Regions from separate parts of the Homo sapiens genome. Here region 1 is linked to region 2. Evidence: fine-mapped expression QTL. Tissue or cell type: whole blood. Region 2 holds a variant in brackets; the other region holds the start of a gene. All regions are shown on one strand. Distances are between the middles of the regions.

Region 1 (6,062 bases), 150 kb after region 2:
AACGTGCTCCATGCTCTACCAAATGCTTGGCCGTGCGTCTCTCTTCTCTGAAAACCTTCCACGGCCTTCTCTGCCCAATCTTTCTCTAAAGGGGAAGTTGAGGCCCTCAGGTTCTCAGCATTGATGAGGCCCCTGTCTACAGACACACACAGCTCCAGGAAACAGGCCAGTCATAGTGCAGAGATCAAGGAGTATGGACAGGACTTACAAGTTCTTACAAAGGGAAATAGAGCAAGAACCCTAACCTGGGAAAATCTGAGAGCAAAGGCAGCTGCACACGCCACACCTTCTGAGACTCTGAGCAGACAACTTCCCTTTTCAGGAAGGAAAGAAGGTGGGGCCGCTCCAACTGGCCCCAAGTGCCCAGCCTCTCCCAACGGTCCCTCGTGCCCCGCTGCCTTCTCAGGGTCCCCAAGAAGACGCTGGCTCTGTTGCCATGTCTCTGTCCTAGCCACAAGGCCTCTGGCTTCTCCTGTGTGTGGTCCCGACCCACCTTCCACCCTACCCCCCTTCACCCCCTCCCCTCTTACCTGCTGCTATCCTTTGCCACCTTTCCAAACAGCAGCTTCTGGAGACAGCCAATGAGGTCTCTGATGCAGAAGGTAACCAGAGCATTGAATGCTGCAACGAAAAGGCCTGGATGTACTCACGGGACAGAGAACGCAACAGACAGCCTGGATGCCAGGCTCCCCCCAAGCTCACCAGCACTGTCCGTGACCTGGAATTTGTTGGCCTCAGCACTTTCCTGGTCCCCTCGGGTGGTGGCCACAGCTGCTCGGAACGCCTGTACCACTTCATGGAACAGCTTTGGAGTGAGGCGTTGCTGAAGGAGCAAGAGTACCAGGGGCGTCAGGGGAGCTGAGACTGCACTTGGCAGAGTGGAAACGGCAGCCCCAGAGAAAGGCACCCTCACCCTCACCCTCAGACATAGGGCAGAGGTTGGGGGGAGGCACAGAGCCCCATACTGATAACAAAAATGGAAACAAAGTCTAGAATTCTCTGGGAAGAGGAGGGAGTCTGGCTCAGGAGCCCCAGGAAAAGGACTGGGAGTTCCAGATCCTGGACTATGGCCACCTCCAGGTGGTATCTGGAGCTCTCCGTATCCTTGTCCCTGGAAAAAAACACTGTGAGAGGCTCAGAAGGACCCCAGCTCCACCAACCAACAAAGGCACAGTCCGTCCCACCCACAGCGGGACTGACTTTGGGGAGTGGGGCGCCAACAGAGCCCCTGGAATCTACCCAAAAGTGAACACACAGTCCTGGGGCAACCAAGCAAGCAGGAGGAGCAACGTGTTGTCACTTGCGCTGAAGAAGGCTCCAAGCGTCCCCTGCGTGGAGAACAGCCCCTCCCACCAGCACAGCCTCAGGCGCCTCAGGTGAGGCAAGGCCAGATCTCTGCCTGGGCACCCAGCTGCCCGCCCCTCGCTGCTGCTCACCTCAGGTGAGGCAAGGCCAGATTTCTGCCTGGGCACCCAGCTGCCCGCCCCTGGCTGCTGCTCACCTTTGCTGCCTGCTTCCATCTCTCAACCATGGCGACGGTCACAGGAACAGAATTCTTCTTCCCCTTCAGCCCTCTGGGGACTCTGTCCCCATCTTCTCCTTCCTCCGCTCCATCCTCCTCCTCACTGGCTTCCTGCACAGAAAGGCTGAGCTGAAGGAGAGTGTAGAGACAAGTGCCCCCCTTCTGGTTTGGCCCACGCCCTCACCTCCAGCACATCTGGCAGGGAGTGGAACGGCCCCTCTTCCTCCTCAGAGCTGTCCGAGTCGCTGAAGTTTAGCAGGCTCTGGTCATTCTCCTGCAGGAACTTGTAGAACTCGGGGTCTCTGTCCTTCAGCCGAGAGAGCTGGTCTTTGTGCTCAGAGGCACGGCCTTTACGCCGGCTGAGGAGGCAGAAGTCAGCGACCCCAGTGGGAAGTGGAAGTAGAGGGGGCGGGGAGTGGCCTACAGGGTCAGTCTACTCCCTTCACAAGGGTTACCAACTAGCAAGACAGGATTGCCAGGAGGTACGTTTTTGGCAGACTCACGTCTCCTACCCAACAACCTCTACAACATACCCTCAAACACACTACACAGGCCCCCCAGCCGCGGTCTTCCCTGGACTTGCTGTGCCTGCGCCCTGCGCTACACAGGCCCCCAGCCGCGGTCTTCCCTGGACTTGCTGTGCCTGTGCCCTGCGCTACTTTTGCCTGATGGTGGCTTCACCCTTCCAGAGGCTCAGACTAAAGGCAAATCTCTGTCTCTAATACCCAGCACGCAACTTGTCATCAGATCTCATCAGCAACACCTTCAAAACCGTTCGTGCCTCCTCTCAAACCACCACATAGTTCAATTCTCAGTTAACCTAAAGGTCTCTCTGTTTCCACCCTTGTCACCTACAAGGCACTCCACCGCTCAAACCCAGAAGTAACTCCCTGTTTTACGAGGCAATCTTATGACGGTCTACGGCACCTGGCTCTTCATCACCCTTCTGGGCTCATCTACCCCTATTCACCCCCTCACTCCTGCCGTAGCCACGTTTACCTCTGTACTCTCCCCAAATGCTCCCACTGCAAGGCTTTTGCTGTTTTCTGCTGCCTGAAATCCTAAGACACGTTTCCCCTACTGTCTGTGTGGCCTCCTTGTTCGAGGTCTTTATTCAGACGTCATCTTCTCAAACAACCACCTCCGCTTTTTTTTTTTTTTTTTTTTCTCCTGAGGCGGAATCTCACTCTGTCGCCCAGGCTGGAGTGCAGTGGCGCAATCTCCACTCACCGCAACCTCCGCCTCCCGGGTTCAAGCGATTCTCCTGCCTCAGCCTCCCGAGTAGCTGGGACGACAGGTGTGTGTCACCACGCCAGGCTAATTTTTGTATCTTTTGATTTCTTTCTTTTTCTTTTTGAGATGGAGTCTCACTCTCTCACCCAGGCTGGAATGCAATGGTGCCATCTCGGCTCACTGCAACCTCCGCCTCCCAAGTTCAAGCGATTCTCCTGCCTCAGCCTCCCGAGTAGTTGGGATTACAGGTGCCCACCACGCCCGGCTAATTTTTATATTTTTAGTAGAGACATGATTTTTCCGTGTTGGTCAGGCTGGTCTCGAATTCCTGACCTCAGGTAATCTGCCCGCCTCGGCCTCCCAAAGTGCTGGCATTACAGGCGTGAGCCACCGAGCACAGCCTCCGCTCCTTCTAACAGAGCAACTCGGCTCCCCTGCAACTCTCTCTTCAGCCCCTCTGTCCTTCCTTTCCCTCCCCAGCACTTATCTCTCTTCTACCGAACTGCAGGCGGTGATTTCACCCAAGAACGTGAGAGTTCTCCTAGATCGGGAAGAGATTTTTGCACAACTCACCAACATACGCTCCCTGCCTAGGACAGAGTTTGGCACGGAACAGGAGCTCAGTAAACATCGGATGAAAGAGTAAGTTAAGCTGAAAGGACTGGGGGGCAGAGGTCGGCGATCCTTAGGCCTTGGCCCTGAGACCCCAGGCGAGGTCAGCAACCCAACCGGGGTGGGACAGGACGAGCAAGAGGTTCTGCTCACGCATGTCCCCACTAACCTGGCCGAGGGGCTCCCGCCCGGCTTATCCGGACTCCGGGCAGCCTCGCGTGCTTCCCGTGTCTCCGCTTGTGGAGAATTTTCGGACTCGGATTCGGACTCGGAGTCAAAGCCCGAAGCTAGGAACTCGTCCACCGTCAGCTCCGCCAGGCGCCTGCGGGTCACGCAGGAGTCACAGCTGCCCGCACGCCCAGCTCGCCCCAGCCCCGCTGAGAGGAGCAAGAAAAGCCCCCTTGGATACAGACACCCACCGGGAGGCCAAATCGGCCCTCGGACCCGCGGCTTACCTCTTGCGGCTCCCCGCAGCTGCCATGACACCAACCCGAAGCGTGCACCCCACTTCCGGCCCCAGAATGCCGCGCGGCTGCGCACTTCCGCCGCCCAGGCCCCGCCCCTTTCCCCGCCCCGCCGCGCCACGCCCAGCCGAGTGGCTCTATGGTTCTCCGACCGCAACGCCGGCGGCCTCAGGGCGGGAGGGCGCGTTCGCGTGCTCGGTGCGGGCAGCCCCGGTGGGGCCCAGATGCGCCTCCCGCTCGGCGCCCGGCTCCGTAGGACGCGGTGACGCCGGTGTCCGCCCCGGGGAAGACCGGGAGTCCCGCCGCGCCCGCAGCCCACCCGGCGCTCCGAAGGCACGCGCCTGCGAGGACGCCAGACTGCAACGGCGGGGCTCCTATGCAAAGAGCTCCCACAAATCAACAATAAAAAGCAGGGAGTCCAGTGGAAAACGCGAGGGGCAGTGGGAACCGCACTGATGTCGCCAGCTCGACAAAAGACGGGCGACCCGAGGGCCAGGCTGGCTTCGCCTCCGATCCGCGGAGACCGGGCCAGCGCCACGAACACCACGCAGGGCGCTCCCCGTCCATGGCCCTCTGGGTGCCGACCGCGGCTCTTCCCGGGGACGCCGCACGGGACGAAGACGGTGGGGAGGCCGGCGCCTTCCTTCCCGCTACCAGCCTGACACCCGGGCCCCCGGGCCTGGACAGCCAGACCCCGCGACAAGGGCGCCGCGGGGCGCAGGCACGGCTCCCCCAGCCCTGGCGCTGAGGGGGCGCGTGAGGCGAACACGGGCGGATTGGCCTCGGGGTCCCATTCGACTTCTTGGTGCCGCGGGGCCCCGGGGCTCCCCGGAGGAGAGCAAGTTAGGGGGTCGGGGGAGCGGGGATGGCTTCCGGGGGAGGAGGAGGGCGAGGCCTGGGGGGCTCCTCGGAGGAGGAAGAGGGCGAGGCTTAGGGGGGCTCCTTGGAGGAGGAGGAGGGCGAGGCTTAGGAGGGCTCTTCGGAGAAACAGGAGGGCGAGGCCTGTGGGGGGCTTCCCGGGGAAGAAGGAAGGCGAGACCTAGGGGGGCTTCCCGGAGGAGGAGGAGGAGGAGGGCTAGGCCGGGGGCTTCCCAGAGGAGGAGGATGGCGGGGCCTGGGGGGCTTCTCGGAGAAGGAAGATGGCGAGGCCTAGGGGGGCTTCTCGGAGGAGGAGGAGGGCGAGGCCTGGTGGGGGGCTTCCCGGAGGAGGAGGATGGCGGGGTCTGGGGGTGCTTCTCGGAGGAGGAGGCGGACCCGGGGCGCAGCGCTGGAAGAATCCGCGTCCAACGTCTAGTCCCCGAAGCCTCTCGGGAGGCGGGGCGGGCGGCGCCGAGAAACAGCGGCTGCGGGCGGGAGCGGCGGGAGTGAGCGACACAGAGCGGGCCGCCACCGCCGAGCAGCCCTCCGGCAGTCTCCGCGTCCGTTAAGCCCGCGGGTCCTCCGCGAATCGGCGGTGGGTCCGGCAGCCGAATGCAGCCCCGCAGCGAGCGCCCGGCCGGCAGGACGCAGAGCCCGGAGCACGGCAGCCCGGGGCCCGGGCCCGAGGCGCCGCCGCCTCCACCGCCGCAGCCGCCGGCGTGAGTGGGCGGGGGTCGGGGCGCGGGGGGCGGCCTCGGGACCTGCGCGGCCCCCGCCCTCGCGTCCGCTCGCAGAAGGGGCGGGGGCCGCTTCCGAGGGCCGGGGGAGGTCGGGACTCAGGTGCGGAGCGGGGTCGGCCCGGAGTAGGTTCCCCACCCGCGCCCCGCGCGCCCAGGACGCGACTCCCGCTGCGGTCCCGAGAGGGCGGCTAGGGACGCGGAGGAGCTGAGCTCGTGGGGGCGCCGGGAAGCGGGGCCGGACGCGGGGCTCTGTTCGCGGCTCTGACTACGCCCCAGGGGAGCAGGGGCGCAGCGGAGGCCTGGACACGGCGCGCTCCGGGGCGGGGGTCCTTGGCGGAGGTCAGGCGAGGGCTGCCGGCGCCCCCGTCGCACCAGGGGCTGGGTCCCCGCGGGCTGCCCGGGCCCCCCAGCGGCTCCAGGGCGGGCGGGCGGCTCCAGCGGGGCGAAGCCTGACCCGCCCGCCTCCTGCAGCCCCGAGGCAGAGCGCACGCGGCCCCGGCAGGCTCGGCCCGCAGCCCCCATGGAGGGAGCCGTGCAGCTGCTGAGCCGCGAGGGCCACAGCGTGGCCCACAACTCCAAGCGGCACTACCACGATGCCTTCGTGGCCATGAGCCGCATGCGCCAGCGCGGCCT
Region 2 (8,448 bases):
TTCTTTCTCAGAATCTAATCCTTCAGTTTCTTGGAAGCTGGACTAGTTTCAGAGCATCTACAAACATTTCTGGAATATTTAACTTACCCTGAAATAACAGACGATAGACAGTAATTCCCTAAATTATTTTCCCCAGTTGTTGCAAAATAAAGCAAATGCAGAGTTTCTAGGACTATAAAAGGAACTCAACTTCCCGGATCCTAGTAAAGAAACAGGAAACAGCTTGAAGCTCTCTGGTTTGTTTTATGGCTCATGAAAAAGCTTTAGCCCAACTTGGCAAAAGAAAGGCAGGGAAAGAGTTCATATGGCTCTGCACAAACCCAACCCAATTACTAATTTCATGTTAGCCACTCTTTATGTGGAATGAGAGGGCTCACAGATGCCCTGCCCTCCAAAACACGCCACAGGGAGGACACATTCCCATCAGCATCAGGGGTTCATGCTAACACAGAGAAAATGCGTATGACTGCAGGAGTCCATGCTTGGTTTAAATAGCCCTGCTGTTGACTCAGATATGTACAGGTAGGCAGGAACCACACACTGTACACATATACCACATGCCACCACACACCATACATCCCACAGACCAATGTGTGCATAAATACATGCACAACCATACATACACACCATACATACAACACACATACACCATACACACAACACACACCAATGTGTGCACAAATACACAGCCACATACCACATGCACATGCAAGCACACACAATGGAGAATCACTGCCTCAAAAGCTCCTCATATGCTATTATCTGTCAGAATGTGAACCATAGATCTGATATTGCAAAAGAAATGTGTTTTATGCAACTTTATTAATACATTTATTTAATGTGACTCCATATTCAACAGAAACAATCCAAGATACTCTCTTATTTATAATAGAATACTTACTTCTTTTGTGCTTTCTTTATGGACATAGATCCATTTTTCATGATAAAAACCTAGAATAAAAATTACCTTTGTTTTTAAAATCTGGCAAATCATTTCAAAATGAAGATTTTAAAGGAATTTAAATAATTGGACATATTAACAAAATTATCTGACTTACTATATTGACAAGAAATGCTTTTACTTGGTTGAATGCAAACAGAATTGCTTTGTTTCTTAAATCAGTTTAAGATATGAACAATGATTTCAGACAGTACCAAGTCCTAGTAACTTAGAAGAAAATTAGTATTATTAATGACTGAAGCCATATGAAGACATAAATGATTATAAAATGCAATTACATTACTACATTCCTATGTACCCTAATAAAAAGTTCTATTCTTCTGTTGCTGTGTATAGTACTCCATAGAAACAAATTTTTCAGATAAATCTTAAAAGTTTCAAGAATCACACTAACTGTATTCTCCATGTGACCCTATCTTCTTCATAAAGTAGTCCCCCCGTATTCACAGTTTCATCTTCTACAGTTTCAATTACCCACAGTCAGCTTTGGTTTGAAAACATTAAGTGGAAAATTCCAGAAATAAACCATTCATAAGTTTTAAATTGTGTGCCATTCTGGGTGGTGTCATGAAATCTCACACCGTCCTGCTCTGTCCTGCCTGGGATGCAAATCCTCCCTTTGTCAAGCGAGTCCTACACTACCCGCCCCTTGGTCACTCAGTAGCCGTCTTGGTTATCGGATCACCTGTTGAGATATCACAGTGCTTGTGTTTAAAGAACCCTTATTGCACTTCATAATAGCCCCAAAGTGCAAGAGCAGTGATGGTGGCCATCTTGCTATAACTGTTTCATTTTATTATTATTCTCGTTAATCTCTTACTGCACCTAATTTATAAATTAAACTTTATTATAAGTGTGTATATACAGAAAAAAAAACATAGTATCCATAAGGTTTGGTAGTATCCACAGTTTCAGGCATCCACTGGAGGTCTATCCCCTGAGGTAAGGAAGCCTACTATACATTAACATGTGTCTTGGTAACTCACAGATATGCTGCATGATAGAACGCTATGCCCTCTCACAGATAGGTCCCACCTCCAGCCTTCCCCTGCTGCCATCTAACATCCTAAACTCCAGCTCTGAATGTCTGTCTCCTGCTCTGAATCTTCAGTGACTTCGAAACTCAAGTCAGGACACCTCTCAGTTTGGCCTCACTGCTCAAGATTGAGCTGAATTCATGACCATAATTCAAGCATTCAGATTCATGGGCTGTTTTGTGGGTTTTGCTATCTCTTATTTTGTTTTTGCACATCTTACCCACTGAAACGTTGGGCTGCAAAAAGTTTGATCACTAAATATGTAGGCAATGCTGGATACTGGGCTGTTATTTACATATTTGTATCACCTTTTATTTCATAAGATAGCATTGTCAGAGTAATTTAGTATTTCAACATAATCAACAAGTAAAATAAAATTAATGAGAATGATCTTACTTTGAGTATTTGTGTCATTTCTAAAATGGTCCTTTTTCCTTTTTTTGGATGCATATTCATGCTCTTCATTATTGACTATTTCTCCATCTTCACTATTTAAGATACTGAAATAAAGACATATTCTATTAAAATATTTTTTCAGGGAGATCTTCATTTGGCTTTTCTTTTGTAAAAGGATACAAATACTTCAAAGTGACAGACTGTGGGCTTGAAATCACAGGGGTAATGTCTAATACATTTTTGTTTCATTTTGAGAAATAAGATGTATCCTGGTTCTTTGAGAATATTGTACCAGAAAGTGCTGAACATGTTTTAGAATCTCTGAAGGGTCTTGATATGCTTATCCAAGGTAGTTTCAAACATCAAAATGGCTTATTAAAACAGAGATTTTTTTAAAAAACAACTATTAAAACTCCAGAAAAAAGATGGTAAGAACATGATGATACCCAATACTGACCAATGACTTGATGTGTCCCTTACCCCATGCTGAGTAACCACTCAACATTTCTGTTTACTCCCTATATGTTTAAGGGTTTAACTGAAGTTAATTATTACTGCACTGAACATGTTTTTATTAAGCACCAACCACATACACTGTTAACACATTTAACTGGAACCAGGTGAAGTGACATGTATATTTTTACTATTTAAATACGTTTAATTAAAAGCTGTTCTTTGTGAAACAAGAAAATCAAATCATAAGGCAATAACTAAACAATGGGAACACCTTTTACTTTTTAAAAAAATGTCTTCCTTACAGAAAAAAAAAACCTGTAAATAGTAATCCACATCCTCAAAACTAAAGATGTGTAAAATTTTTATTTTCCACACACTGATAACAGATTTTCAGTGTAAAGTGAGGAAGGAAGCTCTGTGGAGACAAGCTGGTTGGTGGAGGCATGCAAGAGTGGTGCTCAAATCCAAGGAACTAAAATTGCTTATTTGCCGGTCATCGTTCTTTGACAAGAAAATTGTATACAAGCCCCTTTCCACTCACCACTATTCACTTTTAGTAAAAAACAGCTGACTTTGCCAAATGAGTCACTTTCTCACTGTCAGAACAGACTTAAACAGCAGTGCCAACAGTTGTAAATCATCAAGACAAGCAAAGCACATTTGAAAAACATACAAACAACTGAACTTTTTGTGGCAGACATTATAACAGCAATTTATGGAAATGTGTTGATTTATGGAAATGTGTTTGTATTTTATATTTAGTCTTACACCAGTTTGTTATCATTGATTGAAATACTGAATGTAGAAGCTTTAGAATCTAAAAGGGTTTTCTAACGAAAATTACAAACATATCAAAGGAAAAGCACAAATACAATGTTCTCCAGAAATAGTGTCGCAGAAATAAAGACAGAATATGGAAGGAGAC[AGGATTGCTGAC/A]TAATCTCATATGTACAGGGAGAACGACACTCCATGCAGCTTAGCTCCAACATGTGAGCGTGGGACAGAAAAGCAAGGTGAACCTAAAGACATCCCATGGACACACTGAGCTGGAACCAACTCTGCCCATAGGTGGTGGGGCCAGGTTCAGATGCTTGCAGTAACCGCATCCTCCTGTGAATCTGGGTCTACATGGCTGTGGCTCCCTGGGGGCTACCCACACTGTGGATTCCACAGGTGGAGGTGACCTTCTTGGGCACTGCTGGGACACTTCCTGGGCCTGCCTGGGCAGTGGTAGGGCTCAGAGAACTTCAGCGTTAGGGCCTTGGGGAGTCTATGTCAGACTTGAGGACCAAGCCTGGGCTCACAAATGACAACTAGGCTACTATTTTTACAAAGTATTTTAAATGGGGAAAAAGCCATTATTTTTTGGTTGTGGGTTTTACACTGTCAGGTAAACAAAAATGTACAAGTAGAGAAGAAAGATGAATGCTTCTGAAATTTAAATTTGACACATTAAAATGTTAATAAAGGAGTATTTAATTTATAAATCTTTCTATTCTGCATGTGTCAACTACATTTCATAGCAATCAACTACATGTCATAGCAAACATGTTCTCTTTTTATAACCTTCAAGACAAACATCACCTACTCTGACTTAAAAACAAGGGAACCTGTCCAACAACTTGATTAAAAAATGTCAAACAACTTCAACAGACACTTCTCCAAAGAAGAGACACAGCAGCCAACAAGCCCATGAAAAGATGCTCCACATCACGAATTGTTAGGTAAATGCAAATTAACACTACAATGAGATACTACCTCACGCTCATTATGAGGCTACTGGCAAATTAAAAAAAAAAAAAGAAAGTTTAACAAGTATTGACATGGATGTGGGGAAACTGGATCCTTCGTGCAATGTTGGTGGAAATGGAGGATGGTATAGCTACTATAGGAAACAGTATGGAGGTTCTTCAAAAAATTAAACACAGAATTACCATATGATCCAGCAATTCCACTTCTGGGTATATATTCAAAAGAACTGAAAGCAGAGAATGAAAGATACTTGTATACCCACATTCATAGCAGTATTACTTGCAACAGATAAACATGGAAGCAACCCACATGTCCATCAGTGGATGAATAGATAAGCAAAATGTGGTGTACACTATACACAATATGGAATATTATTCAGTCTGAAAAAGGAAATGCTGACACATGCTACAATAGGGCTGAAACTTGAGGACGTTACGCTGAGATAAGACAGTCACAAAAGGACACATACTGTCTGATTTGACTTATGTGAGGTACTCAGAAAAGTCAAATCATACAGACAGAAAACAGAAAGCCAGTTACCAGGTCTGGGGGTGCTGGAGAATGAAAAGTTAGCGTTTAATGGGGACAGAGTTTCAGTGTGGGAAGATGTAAAAGTTCTAGAGAAGGATGGTGGTAATGGTTGCACAATAATGTGAATGTACTTAACACCACTGAACTGTACATTTAAAAATGGTTAGGAAGGCAATTTTATGTTATGTGTATTTTGCTGCAATTAAAGATAAACAGTGTGCAAGAGAGGAGAGGAAGTAGCAGCTTGTCTTGTTCATGCTGTCTGAGGTGCATGTCGGAGGGATGGGGTGGGGGCGGGAAGTGTTAAAAACAAAGAATAGAACGTTATACAACACAAGCGGAAAACACAGGGCACAAACGCACTTGTATAAAACACAGAGTTTCCATAAACTTAAAACATGTCTGAATGATGGAGCTAACAGCCCTTAACTCCCCACACCCAGGCTGCACCACAGCATATGTCACCCCCTTGCTTGCAAATGTGCCCAAAAGGCAATGACATTCCAAGTTTCCTCTGACAAGCCCAAGGACAGGGCATGAGTTTTCCAAGTTCCTTTCCATTCAAGAAAAGGAAGAGAAGAGAATAGAGAAGAATCAACAAAACAACTCCAAATAGAAGTAAACGAGAGCCAAGAACGGAACTATTTCTCATAATTAAACCCCAATTTCTATAAATTACAATCCTCATTCTAGTGATGACCTATAATAAGATTTGCATTTTCCTCTGATGGTATTTCCCTTAAGAGATGGATAACAAGGTCTTAATCTTCATCTCCCAGACCACTCTAGGGTTCTAAGCACAGGCTTTACAGAAATGTGCTGTTATGGGCCATCATCTTCAAATCATTTCCACACAAGTCTAGGAAAATAAGACAGGCTAGGATAAGCCTCCAGTTTTTAAAATTGCTAATCAAGGGCATCAGTTCTTAACTATATTGCTGTAAGATATGTCACAAAACTTTTGTTACCAGTAAGAAAAATGACCAACATTTGTGAATGATTTAATTTTTAATAATTATTAAAGTACTACACTACACATAATAAAAAATAATACATACTCATAAACTCAACTTCCCTGAGTTGCCAGTAGGAAGCAACCCTGCCGAGCCCTTGATTTTGGATTTCTGGCCTCCAGAATTGTGAGGACATACATTTCTGTGGTTTTAAGCCACCGAGTTTGTGGTTATGGAATCCCAGAAAATGAATAAAATTATCTATCTTTTCAAGCTACTTCAGTTTGATATTGATTATGAAAGGTACATATATGCTATCAAACAGAAGAGACTTTAGGGAGAAAAAATCTCGCATAAATGCAACAAGTTGCCATGACTCTAAGTGCCAAGGTCATATAACATGCAGACTGTGATAATTTCACCAAAACCAAAACAAAGTGGAACAAATCCTCAGACACAGTTGCTGATAATTCCCACCCTGGCCTCCTCTGACATTTCCTTTCGATCAATTTGGCTGCACCTCTTCTGTCAAGCAGGAGCTGGACGACATTTTGGTCAGCTCCTCCCCAGAAGGGAGCTACAATCTCTGCTCTAACAATCCCCAGTTGTTGTCTTAAGTCACACTGTGTTCATCAATGGCTACCTACTAAACTTAGCTTTTTATCTGTACATTTTCCAATCAGGTCGTATTATTTTCTCCTGGTAGGCAAATGTTTACGTTTATCCATTTTCCTGATATAAAGCTACTTCGTATCAGTGTGTTATTAGTCTCTAATTATAAGAAGATAATCCAGAAGAGAAAGTCCAGTCAATTTTATATAAGTTAAAAAAAAGATGTGAAACCTATTTTCAGAATTAACATTTCCTTCCTAAACATCTAACACGACACACTTACGGACTCTTAACACACCCTTATTACATGAAGGAGCAGCAGAGCAGAGGGCGGCAAGAGCACCAAGGCCAGGTGGAGCCACAGCCAATGTGGGCCCATCTCACTCCGCAGGGAGAAGCAACTGCACTGTGCACAGAGTGCAATCTGGCAGAAGGGAAACGCCGTCTTAAAGAGCTTCAGATGCAGCAACCTTGAGGAAGGGCTGTGCCAGAAAGTCCACCAGATGAGGCCGCAAACCTATCAAAGGGCATCAGACACTCTGTGCACAGGGTACACAAAACAATGCCTCCCACATTCTGTGACTTCCTGCGCGTGCCACTTGGACCACCACACTCCCTACCTGCACCATCTTACCTGGACAGACTAAATCTCAGCCACCTCATGACTAGGATATTAACATGGCTTCCAGTTCTATAAATTCCTCCCCCTTAAGAATGCATGTCTGTAAAATCAGAAATGATGAAAACTGGACTCGTGAGTGGCTTTGTAGTAGGGATTACAGGTCCAGAATAGAATAGGTTCAGTAACATATTTAAGATATTTAAGGGAAAAAATATAAGCCAAAGATTTAACATCTAAATAGTGACTATCAAGGGTAAAAGTCACACATATTTTTTATGAGTACACACAAACACAGGAAGTACGGTGACCAGGAGCTGAGGGATGACCCACTAAAGAATAAGCTCCGGAAACCAAAATGACTAGAGGCAGATGCAAAGGTGAGCTGCAGGTGGTCTGTATTTATCTGTGGAGCTGCTGGCACATGACGGTGATAAAAGTGCAGCATGCCATGGTTACCAGCTTGGACAATGCAGACAAAGAACAACCACCAGAGAAGTGGTAGGGGCGGGCAGAAGATGTGCAGGGGCCAACTGGGACTGGGGTGTCCATCAGCTAACTGCAGTATCAGGTACTATGGGGAGCCAACCAAAGAAACTAAGTGTTTGCTATAAAGGCATTAGGATAAAAGTGGAAAAAAAAGAGGAAGAAAGCCCTCTTAAATACCAAAAGGGTAAAAGCAAATAAAATAGAACAAGGTGGTTCCCTGTTATCTGTGATGTAAAAAATGGACTTGGCTCACCTATTAAATGGAAAACAGTCTTGGATTGGCTCACAAAGCAAAATCAAACACCATACTGCATATAAGATATACAGCTATAAAAGGCTGGGAAAATATATAGAGAATTTATAGGACTCAGAAAAAAAGTAACTGTCACAGGAAACTTTATAGCATTAAATACCTATATCAATACAAATTTAAATAATAAAAATAAATTATTTAAACATATAACTGAAAAAGCCAGAAAAAGAATAAGTGAACCAAAAGAAAGGGGTGAATTATTACAAATAAAAGCAGATATTATTAAGTAGAAAAAGAATAGAACTAAGAAGTAAATCCAAAAGCTGGCTCTCAAGAGAAAATAATCAACCAAAACAAACCACTAGGTATCTGATTAGAAAAAAAAAAAA

Evidence for each region. PIP is the estimated chance that this variant, and not a neighbour inherited with it, causes the effect.
Region 1: it holds the start of NOC2L, and the variant in region 2 is fine-mapped to the expression of NOC2L in whole blood (INTERVAL, PIP 0.94).

What each region holds. Positions count from the first base shown.
Region 1 is chr1:955,393-961,454 of GRCh38, forward strand. NOC2L (NOC2 like nucleolar associated transcriptional repressor) reads right to left here and starts at 3,864. Exons shown (of 19, transcript NM_015658.4): 1 at 3,823-3,864; 2 at 3,537-3,689; 3 at 1,707-1,881; 4 at 1,502-1,633; 5 at 703-823; 6 at 531-621. The coding sequence starts at 3,848. It overlaps KLHL17 (kelch like family member 17), which reads left to right and starts at 5,192. Exons shown (of 12, transcript NM_198317.3): 1 at 5,192-5,408; 2 at 5,901-6,062. The coding sequence starts at 5,302. RefSeq lists enhancers at 3,132-3,989, 3,648-3,757 and silencers at 3,868-4,127, 5,086-5,395, 5,416-5,745.
Region 2 is chr1:807,673-816,120 of GRCh38, forward strand. It overlaps LINC01409 (long intergenic non-protein coding RNA 1409), which reads left to right. Exons shown (of 6, transcript NR_187359.1): 6 at 1,986-2,393. Among named protein-coding and RNA genes, the nearest start is that of FAM87B, 5.5 kb to the right of the region's middle. The variant AGGATTGCTGAC/A (reference allele first, on the strand shown) is at 3,776.